3 linked regions of the Homo sapiens genome follow. The protein of the gene in region 3 interacts with the protein of the main gene of each other region in a pairwise test. Each region holds a gene or a part of one and is shown on either strand. Other genes may lie near its edges. The genes, in order: SYT16, PBX3 and AGTRAP.

Evidence for each region.
Region 1: the proteins of AGTRAP (region 3) and SYT16 interact in binary tests that used the Homo sapiens proteins (3 or more experiments, as listed by UniProt).
Region 2: the proteins of AGTRAP (region 3) and PBX3 interact in a two-hybrid assay, tested with the Homo sapiens proteins (4 studies listed by BioGRID).

The regions. Positions count from the first base shown.
Region 1 is NC_000014.9:61,810,411-61,814,158, forward strand, and holds the start of SYT16 (synaptotagmin-16), read left to right. Parts: upstream 1-2,292; 5' UTR 2,293-2,387; coding exon of another isoform or gene 2,388-2,400; intron 2,401-3,748. UniProt on the Homo sapiens protein: May be involved in the trafficking and exocytosis of secretory vesicles in non-neuronal tissues. Is Ca(2+)-independent.
Region 2 is NC_000009.12:125,925,290-125,929,037, reverse strand, and holds part of PBX3 (pre-B-cell leukemia transcription factor 3), read right to left. Parts: intron 1-3,748. UniProt on the Homo sapiens protein: Transcriptional activator that binds the sequence 5'-ATCAATCAA-3'.
Region 3 is NC_000001.11:11,745,988-11,749,735, reverse strand, and holds part of AGTRAP (type-1 angiotensin II receptor-associated protein), read right to left. Parts: intron 3,610-3,748; coding exon of another isoform or gene 3,513-3,609; intron 2,297-3,512; coding exon 2,191-2,296; intron 1,322-2,190; coding exon 1,126-1,321; intron 1-1,125. UniProt on the Homo sapiens protein: Appears to be a negative regulator of type-1 angiotensin II receptor-mediated signaling by regulating receptor internalization as well as mechanism of receptor desensitization such as phosphorylation.

The sequences.
Region 1 (3,748 bases), on a different chromosome or scaffold from region 3:
AACAGGTCCATTATTCAGAAATCATTTATTGAACATATCCTTTGAATTGTCATTTTTTTTCCTTTTTCTCATTTGGAAAAGCCAGTTTGATTAATGCATAAGGAGCCTCACACATGTTCCACTGACCCTTCAATTGAATCCAAGCCCAACCCACCCTTTTTGCCCTCACACCAGCTTAACCTCCTGGTTTGTGAGCTCCAAACAGGTTGAAGACTCCAGGGTCATGTTTAATTCTTTTTTCCTTTAACCTCCTGGTTTGTGAGCTCCAAACAGGTTAAAGACTCCAGGGTCATGTTTAATTCTTTTTTCCTTTTCCCCATCCAACCCACTTCCAGAGTGTTGGCTTTTGGGTCTACTGCAGATGGTTGTTGTGAAAGACAAATGAACCAGGTCTCTGTGGTTCTTAACTAGAAGTCTGCTTCAGAATCACCTGTGTTAAAACAAATAAAGGCTAAACACAATTTAAAAAAAGGACACCCCTAAGTGCTACTCTAGGTGGACTGAATCAGAATGTGGAGCCTGATCAGAATATTCTCTCCCTCATCGTGCTCTGTGAACTGACCAGAGAGGACTCCTGTGTTGTTCTCTGGCAGTTTTCTGTCTGCCTAGCCACGTGGGAGCTAGTGGATAGGCAGACGGGAGCCTTGCTCCTGAGTCTTCTCAGCATCCAGCCCGGGGCTGATTGGGTTGAATGTGCATCTCCAAATGCATCAAATGGATTGTATCTTTGTATTTTTATTTTATTTTATTTTTAAGACAGGGTCTCATTCTGTCACCCAGGCTGGAGTGCAGTAGTATGATCTCAGCTCACTGCGGCCTTCACCTCCCAGCCTCAAGTGATCTTCCCCCTCAGCCTACTGAGTAGCTGGGACCACAGGCATGCACCACCAGCCTGGCTAATTTTTGTTTTATTTTTTCTAGAGACAGGGTCTCACTATGTTGCCCAGGCTTGTCTCAAACTCTTGGGCTCAAGCTATCCACCTGCCTAGACCTCTCAAAGTGCTAGGATTACAGGCGTGAACCCGGCCCTTTTTTCTTCTTTTAAAAACTAGGGACAGGGTCTTGCTCTTTCACCCAGGCTGGAGTGCAGTGGTGCAATCATAGTTTACTGCAGACTTGAACTCCCGGGCTAAAGTGATTCTCCTACTTTGGCCTCCCAAAGTGTTGGGATTACAGGCTTAAGCCACCATGCCTGGGCGAAATGTATTGTATCTTTAAGAAGTATCTAGCCTGCCATGTAATTTAGGGGATGTGTTTGAGCCATTTGATCCTTCACATGATGGATCTGGTGGTGGAGACGGGGGTTTCTAATGTACAACTGTCCCCTAATATATTAGGTTGGTGCAAAAGTAATGGCAGAATAATCCAATAATCCATCAGAAATTGGTTTTTGGACTTCAAGAAGATGTATACAACATCATTCTGAACTGACAGCCTCAGTTCAGAGCCCTCCTGAACCACAATGGCCTGTGAGGCACAAGACTCCGGCTCACTCATTCGGCCTGGTCCACTTACTTACTCTAGCGTCCATCCCTAGTCAGTGGCAGGGCTGTAGTTGGCTATGATCATGTATCAGTTGCTCATCCAGTGGACGTCCAATCAGTTAGTTGGCCATTCATTCATTCATTCATGCAGGCATCCAGTTATAAAGACATCCATTCACCCACTCAACAGAAATCTGCTGAGAGCCTACTACGTGCTGGGAACTATTTTCACATCGGAGACAAAACAGAGGGTGACATGAAGAGCACGGCCCACTTGGAGCCTACGGAGATGGCGTTGAGCGGTTTCGCAGGAGAGCTCCTGCCCCGGAGGATTAATGCCCAGCACCTGGCTCATCCTCCCCACACCCCTAGCTCTTCTCCCGCTTTGCTCCTTCCAGCTGGGGCTGAGCATGGGGTCCCAACCCCGCTGGTGAGAAGCTCGAGGTAGGGATGAAGCGGAGAATGGAAAAGGTGACTCGAAAACAAGGATATAGCGGGAACGTTGTAGGAAAGGTGGCGTGGAGAGGCGACCCTAGCGTGGCCGGGAGCGTGTTTCCAAGTTGCGGCGAGCATCCTCTTTGGGGGAGGGGCGGGAAAGGAAAGGAGGGGAGGGGGACGGACGCGGCGAGGCGAGGAGGGGGAGATCCAGCCTCTAGGCGCCGCAGCTCGGCCGTTCTGCCCGGGAGGCTGGGCTCTCAGGACGCCGGCGGCGGCCGCAGGGCTGGCGGCTGCTGGGCGCGGGGCGGCGCGGGGCGGCGCGGCGCGGCGGGGGCGCGCGGCAGGAGGGGCTGTGCGCGGCGCGGCCCCCGAGCGCACCGGGCCTGCCGAGGAGCGCGCGCCCGGCCGGGCTCGGCGCCGGTTTCCCGAACCTGGGCGGCCGTCGGGCAGCCCCCTCGTCCGACCATGGCGACTGACAGTGAGTGCGCTCCGGCCGCGGAGGCCAGGGGTGGGGGGAGGCCGCGGTGCCCAGGGTGGGAAGTTCGATTTCAGACGCTGCCTTTGTGCTGGCTCGCGGCAGCAGCGGCCGGGTCCCTCTCCGCTCCTCACCCTTGGCTGCCTGGCGGGGCTTGAAAGGGCAGGTGGCCCTGGCGGCGCGCCCCGCGAGGGATGTGGCAGAAGGGCGTGCGCCTGGCGCCGAGGCGGAGGGACCCTCGATGCCGTGTGGCAGCGGGGCCTGCCATCGCAGCCCTTCGCGGGCACTGCCCCCAGGCCCAGAGCCAGCCTTCAGCGAGCCGGGCAAACGAAGGCACTGCGCGTTTTTGGCGCTGTGAGTTCAAGGTTCGCCTCGAGTTCTGGGTCGGGTTTGTGCGTCTGCCTTTTGGGGATCAGGGTGGCTTGCATGGCTCGGCTGCCCGGTGGCCCACGGGCTGTATTCGCAGCGGGCAGCACAAGGCCGGCTGGAGACCGCATCTGGTTACCATGGTCAGTGGGTGGGAGGAGTGCCTGGAGACATCAGGTTGAAACTCTGAATGGAAGCGTTGGAAGGCGCTGGGTTGGCCTGCTTTTGGCATCTTGGCACCGCTGCTCTTATGGCTCAGTGCCTTTGGAAATTGGAATCCCGTCTGTGAAAACTGGTTAAGTTAGTTGCGTTTGAAGCCAGATACGTATTAGTGAAGCTTCAAAGGGAGTTCAGAGTAAAACCAAGTCACACCTGCGTACCTAGCATCCAAAGTCCCTAGCACAGGTGTGGCGCATGTTAGGGACTTCATTAGATGAGTGAATGGGGCTGGATGTGCTGGCTCAGGCCTGTAATCCCAGCACTTTGGGAGGCCGAGGCGGGAGGATCACTTGAGCCCAGGAGTGCGAGGCTGCTGTGAGCTATGACCCTGCCATTGCACTCCAGTCTGGGCCACAGAGGAAAAAAACAAAAATCAAATGGTGTGCTGGCTACAGAGGCCCTTTGGAAGGTATTTTTTTTTTTTTTTTTTTGAGAGGTGAGGAGGAAAAGAGATGGGAAAATGAGATGTCAAAATTTCTGCAATAATTTATTATTTTTCTTGTAAACAATCATCCCAGCCAAGAACACAGCTTTAGGATAGTGTGGAGAGCTTGAGTTTTTGTAGTCAAACAGACCTGTATTTTATCTCTCTAGAATTCCCTAGCAGTGGGACCATGGCACTGTCCTCAGTTTCTCTAAATTAGGACAAGGCTGTCATTCATAGCTCTTACAAGCGATGGGCACACAGGTGGCCTTCAGTAAATGGTGGTTGTCCTCTCCCTGCTGTTTTGCCATCATCTGATATGTGTGGGGATACCAACATGCT
Region 2 (3,748 bases), on a different chromosome or scaffold from region 3:
TTCCAGGTACTAGAAATAACAGTATGTTGCAAGTTCAGAGAATGGCAAATAGGAATACAGATAATATGTAAAGAAGCAAAAGGATTCAGGTTTGAATTAGCACATAAAGGGCCTTGCGTGCCAAGCATTCCAATGACCTATTATAATTTAGCTGTAGTGCAGGCCTTTAGTGGATATAAGCCATCTCTGTAAAGCAGCTCAACTCTTCAAGGGATGTCCAACAGAAAATAAGGATCAGATCTGGGTCTCAAACTTTTTAGTTAACAATCCTCAGGCCGGGCGCGGTGGCTCACGCCTGTAATCCCAGCACATTGGGAGGCTGAGGCGGGTGGATCACGAGGGCAGGAGATCGAGACCATCCTGGCTAACACAGTGAAACCCCATCTCTACTAAAAATACAAAAAATTAGCCCACCGTGGTGGCGGGTGCCTGTAGTCCCAGCTACTCGGGAGGCTGAGGCAGGAGAATGGCGTGAACCCAGGCGATGGAGCTTGCAGTGAGCCGAGATCGCGCCACTGCACTCCAGCCTGGGCAACAAAGCGAGATTCCAAGATTCTGTCTCAAAAAAAAAAAAAAAATCCTCAGACATTGTCTCTTTCAGTACATACACAAAAACACACACACACACACACACACACACACACATTTGTTTCCCCTAATATTCAGAGTCTCACTGTGTCACCCAGGCTAGAGTGCAGTGGTATGATCATAGTTCATTGCAGCCTCAAGCCCCTGGGCTCAAGCAATCCTCCCATCTCAGCTTCCCAAGTAGCTGTGACGACAGGCATGTGCCACCATACCCAGCTAATTTTTTATGTATTTTTTATTATTATTATTTTTTTTTGTAGAGACAGAGTCTTGCTCTGTCGCCCAGGATGGAGTGTTGGAGTGCAGTGGTGTGATCTCGGCTCACTGCAGCCTCCGCCTCCTGAGTTTAAGCAATTCTCCTGCCTCAGCCTCCCGAGTAGCTGGGACTACAGGTACACACCGCCACGCCCGGCTAATTTCTTTTGTATTTTAGTAGAGATGGGGTTTCACCATGTTGCCCAGGCTGATCTCAAACTCCTGAGTTCAGACAATCCACCTGCCTCAGCCTCCCGAAGTGCTAGGATTACAGGCATGAGCCACTGCGCCTGGCCCCCAGCTAATTTTTAAATCTTTTTTAGAGTCAGGGTCTTGCTATGTTGCCCAGACTTGTCTCAAACTCTTGGCCTAAAGAGATCCTCCCACCTCAGCCTCCTGAGCTGCTAGGATTACAGGTGTGTGCCACTGCATCCAACTTCATCTATATTCTCTTTGATTTATAAATCTGTATAACTGGGCCTACACTGAAATCCAGTACTGCCTGGTAAATAAAGCATCAGTTTATACTCCTGAAGAAAAAGAGTCTCTTCTGGCATTTTTCTTAAAAATGCAGGATGGGAAATTCTGCATCTTACTGCACGGGTGTCCCTGATGGAGTGAGAAGACAGAAAAATCACTGATCAATGCAAGACATGTTTGGAAGTTATAATAATGTCCACTTCCCTAGAGATATCCCAAACATTGCTCACATATAGCACATGATGGTTTTTCTAACTGCTCATTAGAGGACTAACCTTTCCTGAACCCTGTGTATTTCACTTACTCTAAAATTTTATAGAGCTTTCCATAAATATTTCTAAGGTAAGGTAAAATGAGTCTTATCATGTAAAGTTTTTTCAAAAATATGTTTTAAGCCATAGGAAATATTAAATTCCTTGTGAGTGGTGACACTATATTATACTTACGGGATTCTTCAGTGTAGAATTATGCAATATACATACCTAATAAACATCTACAGATTGGTGGGCTTTTTAATACTACAATTCAAGAGTGAGAGTTATGTTGGTTAATAGCCATAAATTCATTATCCCTGAATCATAAGAGAAGAATTCTTAATCTGCAGTCAATGGATAGGTTTAGAAGGTCAATGACCTCCTGAAATCCTACACAAGTTGTGTGCATATTAATAATTCTGATGAGAGAATCTGTGAAGCTTTTGTTTTCTTTTCAGAATCTCAGTCTATAATTTTAAAAGGTTAATAATCATTGTCCCAGGATATGACACAGTAAAACATTAAGCAATGTTGTAGACTAAAACCAGAAGTTGAAGGCAGAAACCAAGATTTAAAAAAATAAATTTAAGATCTTCCCCACTATATTATCAATTTATTTTATCTTATTACTATTTTTTTTGAGACGGAGTTTAGCTCTTGTTACCCAGGCTGTGGTGCAATGGCACGATCTTGGCTCACTGCAATCTCCGCCTCCCAAGTTCAAGCGATTCTCCTGCCTCAGCCTCCCAAGTAGCTGGGATTACAGGCGTGTGCCACCATGCCCGGGTAATTTTTTTTGTATTTTTAGTAGAGATGGGGTTTCACCATGTTGGTCAGGCTGGTCTCGAACTCCTGACCTCAAGTGATCTACCTGCCTCAGCCTCCCAAAGTGCTGGGATTATAGGCATGAGCCTGTAATAAATAGCACCTGGCCTATTATTTTGAGACAGTTTCATTCTGCTGCCCAGTCTGGAGTGCAGTGGCATGATCTTGGTTCACTGCAACCTCCGCCTTCTGAGTTTGAGTGATTCCCGTGCCTCAGCCTTCCAAGTAGCTGGGATTACAGGCATATGCCACTGCGCCCAGCTAATTTTTGTATTTTTAGTAGAGACAAGGTTTTACCATGTTGGCCAGGCTGGTCTCGAACTCCTGACCTCAAGTGATCCGCCCACCTTGGCCTCCCAAAGTGCTGGGATTACAGGCGTGAGCCACCATACCTGGCCTATATTATCAATTTAAATGATTTTATGCCAAATTAAAAACAAGTGGTCACCCTACCAATAAATATACGTATATATCTTTTTCTTGAACTTTCCCTAAGGAGATGTTTATATAATTTCCAAGTTATGTAATGTGACCAACTCTACCCTTCAGTTTTCTCATCAGTAAAACAAAGATAATTGAAGTAGAACTATTCCAAAACTGGGATTAACAAATTCTATAGTTCTACAGCTAGTTCCATAGAATGTTAACTAATAGTCCAACAATATGATATGTTTGGGAATTGCTGGGTTAACCAAAATCTTAAAAACTTTTTGTGGGTAAGACTCTTCAGTATTCCTATCCTAATATTTGTAATAAATCTTCAAGGAGAAATAGCATATCCAACTTTTTCCCAAATAAATTTGGCCACAAAATTTCTCTCTAGAGTAATCCTGTCCAATAGAAATACATTGTGAGCCACATATTAAATTTTTAAATTCTCAGTAGCCATATTAAAAAATAAAATACAAAGAATTAGGTGAAATTAATCAACAATATATTTCACTTAACCCAATATATAAAAAATATCCTGGCCTGGGCAACATGGTGAAACTCCGTCTCTACCAAAAATATAAAAAATTAGCTGGACATGGTGGCACGCCTGTGGTCCCAGCTACTTGGGAGGCTGAGGTAGGAGGATCACTTGAGCCCAGGAGGCAGAGGCTGCAGTGAGCTGAGATTGTGCCACTGCATCCAGCCTGGGTGACAGAGTGAGAGAAAGAAAAGAAAGAAAATTAAGAAAGAAAGAAACAAAGAAAGACAAAAAAACTGTTAATGAGGTATTTCATTCCTTTTTTGTACTCTTTGAAATCTAGTGTGTATTTTACATTGACAGCACATCTCAGTTCAGACTAGTCAGACTTCAAGTGCTCATTAGATACAAGTGGCTAGTGGCTGCCATATTCAAC
Region 3 (3,748 bases):
CCCTGTGCCATGGGCTTCCCCAGGCAGCACGTGCTTAGGAACCTGGGCAGAGGGACATCAGCCCCGGGCCCACGCACTCCTCTCCAGCTCCCCTCCCAGGTACAAGGACACCACATTACCATATCCAGATGGCCTCGGAGGCTGGGGCTGGGTCCAAGGCAGGGCCGTAGGGCTCCGAGTACGCCACATGCCTCACTCCCATCCCCTACTCTGTACATTCATCCCGGGACCCTGAACAAGTCCCAAAGGATGTGGGCCTCAGTTTCCTCATCTGTCCAATGGGAGAAACATTCTGGCACCCCTCACCTGGGGGCAGGCCCAGGCAGTGCTGAGGTCAGCCACTGTGGGCAGCCCCAGGCCATTCCCACCCTCAACCAGCTGGTGGCAGTCACAGGCCACGTGGGGCATCTCATCTCAGGAGTGAAAGGCAGAAGGCCACACCCTACCACCTCCCTCCACTCCTCTCAAAGAGAGAGAGAAAGGAAGAGAGAGAGAGGTGTCAGAGAGCAGGCAAATGGCTCGGCCACCAGGAGAAGGAGTACAGGAGTTCAGAGAGGGCGTGGGAGAGGGCAGGTGTAAGGCTGGGTGAGTGGGGAGGGGCCGGTGGGCAGGGAAAGTGCCCCCTGTTCAGGGCTGTCTTCACTGAGGCTCCCACAGCCTACACTGGCACGGGCTCTGCCCTGGCCACCTAGCAGTCTCTGCAGCAGGAGAGGGAAGACCCCATGTGGCAGGAAATGGGGTTCCAGTGATGGGCCCCGGTGAGAACAGAGAGGAGACCTGTAGGTGCCCGTGGCCCTCAGGATGGAGACAGCCCAGGGCTGCCCCTGGGAACTAAATGGTACCCCCAGCTGTGCCTGTGTTCTGGGCTGAGAGAAGGGCCCAGCCTCAGCTTCACAGCAGAAGAAGGTCACGGCAGACCAGGACAACCAGGGGACCCCTGGGCTCCTGCAGCAGAGACTAGGAGCTTGGACCTGTCCAGCCTAGTACAGAGCGCCCATGCCACGCTCTCCCTGCACCTTGAGCCCTGGCCCCATGGGGCAAGGCTGGCTCACTGAGGGAGAGGCTGGAGGCCAGGCAAGGGAGAGAAGGGAGCGGTGAGGAGCTGGCTGGAGGTGGTGGCCTCACCAGTGTGGACCAGGAGCTCACCCCCGCGCTCCCGGTACATGTGGTAGACGAAGCAGCAGGAGAGCGGCTTGAGCAGCAAGCTGAGGATGGCCATGCCCACGCCAAAGCGGCCCGTGTCCGTGAGGCTGACCCGCGGGTAGAAGATGCTGATGTGCACGATGTCCAGGAAGATGGTGGCCAGCAAGCCACCCAGAAACTGCAAGACACACCACACTGATGAGCACAACACCCCCACCACGCTCCGTGGCTCCCCCGCCACACACCGGATGGGAAGCCGTTTCATGCCCTGCTGTGTCCTTGGGGCTTGCGGGAAAATGGATCAAGCAAGCAGGCAGGGCCCCGCTGGGGAGCCGCTGGCTGAGACTGCAGTCTGGGGGCAGGGATGCCGGGGGCCCAGGTCTCGGTTCCACCAGAGCCTCCCTCCCCACCCATTTCCCGTCATCTCCAAGGCCATGATGGGCACAAGACTTGGCTCTAGAACCTCCATAGAGGAAGGTTCCTTGGAGTTCACCCAGTCCTTCTCCAACACAAAGAAAATCTCTTCTCAGTCATCCTGAGGCCCTGGCCTCGGCTTGAAGAGCCCGTGCGGGAGTGCTCACTGCCCCACGGGGCTCCGTGGGTGCTGAGAAGCTCCCCCTGTGGGAGGTTTCGGTGGGGCAGGGTCACCTCTACTTCCTAAAGTAGTGAAATGCCCTCTTGGCCGGGTCTCCCAGCCATATCCCCTCCCCTAAAAGAGAGCCGCAGAGGGAGGTTACAGGGGATGTTCCACTGCTCTTGCGAAGTGGCTAATCCGAGGCACTGGTGGGACCCACCCCATGGCTTTCCTCAGGGAGATAATGGCAGACTTGGGGTTCTCTAAGCCAGACAAGAAGAGCAGCAGGCTGGGCTCCTGAACACAGGCATGGGCCGGAGCCCAGGAGGCTGATGAACAGGCTTTAGACAATGGGAAGTGGTGGCCCAAGGAAGAGGGGGAAGATTGGGATGGGACGGGGTAGCAGAGCCAGGCTATGTCTTGCCCTGTGCTGCGGCTCCCCGCCTTGCCGCCTCTCCCCCACCCTGGCTCACCATGCTTATGGCGTCGATGGAGTCCCGCTGAGCCACAGCCCACACGCCCAAGGCCAGGATGGTGAAGTTGGCCCAGGCATAGGAGCCTGAGAATACAATGCAGCCCCTGTAGGAAGAGGTAGCTCAGTCCCGTCAGGAGGCCACCACCCCGCAGGTCACCTCCCTCCTGCTCCGGCGTCTCAGGGCCTCCTCCCAGAACATGCCATAGTCTTCGAGGCCACCCGGCTGTGTGCCAGCAAATCCCATGGGCTCCGCCTCCCACCCAGACCCTGGATCTGGCTGTGTCCCTGTAGATCCAAAGCACCTCCCTCTCCTGGCAGATGACAGCCGCAGCCACCCTGTGCCAGCGTCCTGACTGCCACTCTGTTCTCTAAACAGCAACCGGTAACGTAGTCAGATGCTGTCACTCCTCTGCTAAAAATCCTCCAACAGTTTTCTGTCCCATTTGGAATAAAATGCAGACTCTTCACCAGGGCCTAAGGGGCCTGTGGGATCCCGGACACAGCCTCGCCCTACTGACCTCCCAGCCACTGCCCTGTGCGGCGGGCGCCCTCTACCCTGACACCTGGCCCTCCTTTTGTCATTCACCCTGAGACTCGAATGTTCACCCTGAGACTCCTTCCCTTGCCCACCGGTGCTAAGTACAAGTTCGTCACTTTCCTAACACAAGGCCCGCCCTATTCTATTTTTAGGGTACTGATACTGACATTGTTGACTTACTTGTCAATCCAATCAAAATCATAGTGAACACCGATCACTTGCTAGTACCTAGCATGGTTCTGTTTTAAATTAACTCATTCATGTACATTTATGTTAATAACCATAGGAAGGAAGTATTATTGTTACCCTCACTTTAGAGATGAGGAAACTGAGACACAATGAGGTTAAGTAACTCGCCCAAGGTCACACAGTTGCTGAGCAGTGGGGCTGGGATTTGGAGTCTGGCTGGAGAGGCCATGCTCTTGCTCACCCTGCTGTGCTGCAAGGAAGACTCAGGGGGACAGGGACTGAGTCTACCTCATTTATTACCAAACCCACTGGGCCTTGCCTTCCCCTGCATGCAGCGGGCGCTTCCTAGATTTATAGGACATTCACTAAAGTGTAACATGCAGAAGACATGTGCAAGGCAGGTGTGGAGTGCCATTCGGTTCAATAGGTCTTTGAATAAACCATCTTATCTTTTGCTTTTAAGAAAGCAGGTGCCTGGGTCCCAGCCCAGAATCACCAACTCAGAATCTTGGGGAAGTGTGACTAAGAAATCTGTATTTTGGCCCTGCTTCTCAAGGTCGTGAATCATGATGGTTACAGTTCACATTACTCACAGCTGTTGCCCTGTGCGCTGCACTTCGAAGTTTGCAAAGTGCACAGGTGAGCTCAATGGTTTCCAGTCTTGGTTTGGCAGAGAAATGTCTCCAGAAGCTCAACAGATTAAAAGAGATGGTAAAGGTGAAAATCAAGCTGCAGTGCTGAGGCCTCACTGTGGGGCAGGCCCTGGGGAGCTCTGATGAGCACTTCCACGTCTCCCTCCCAGCTCCTGCAGGGTGTGCAATCCTTATGC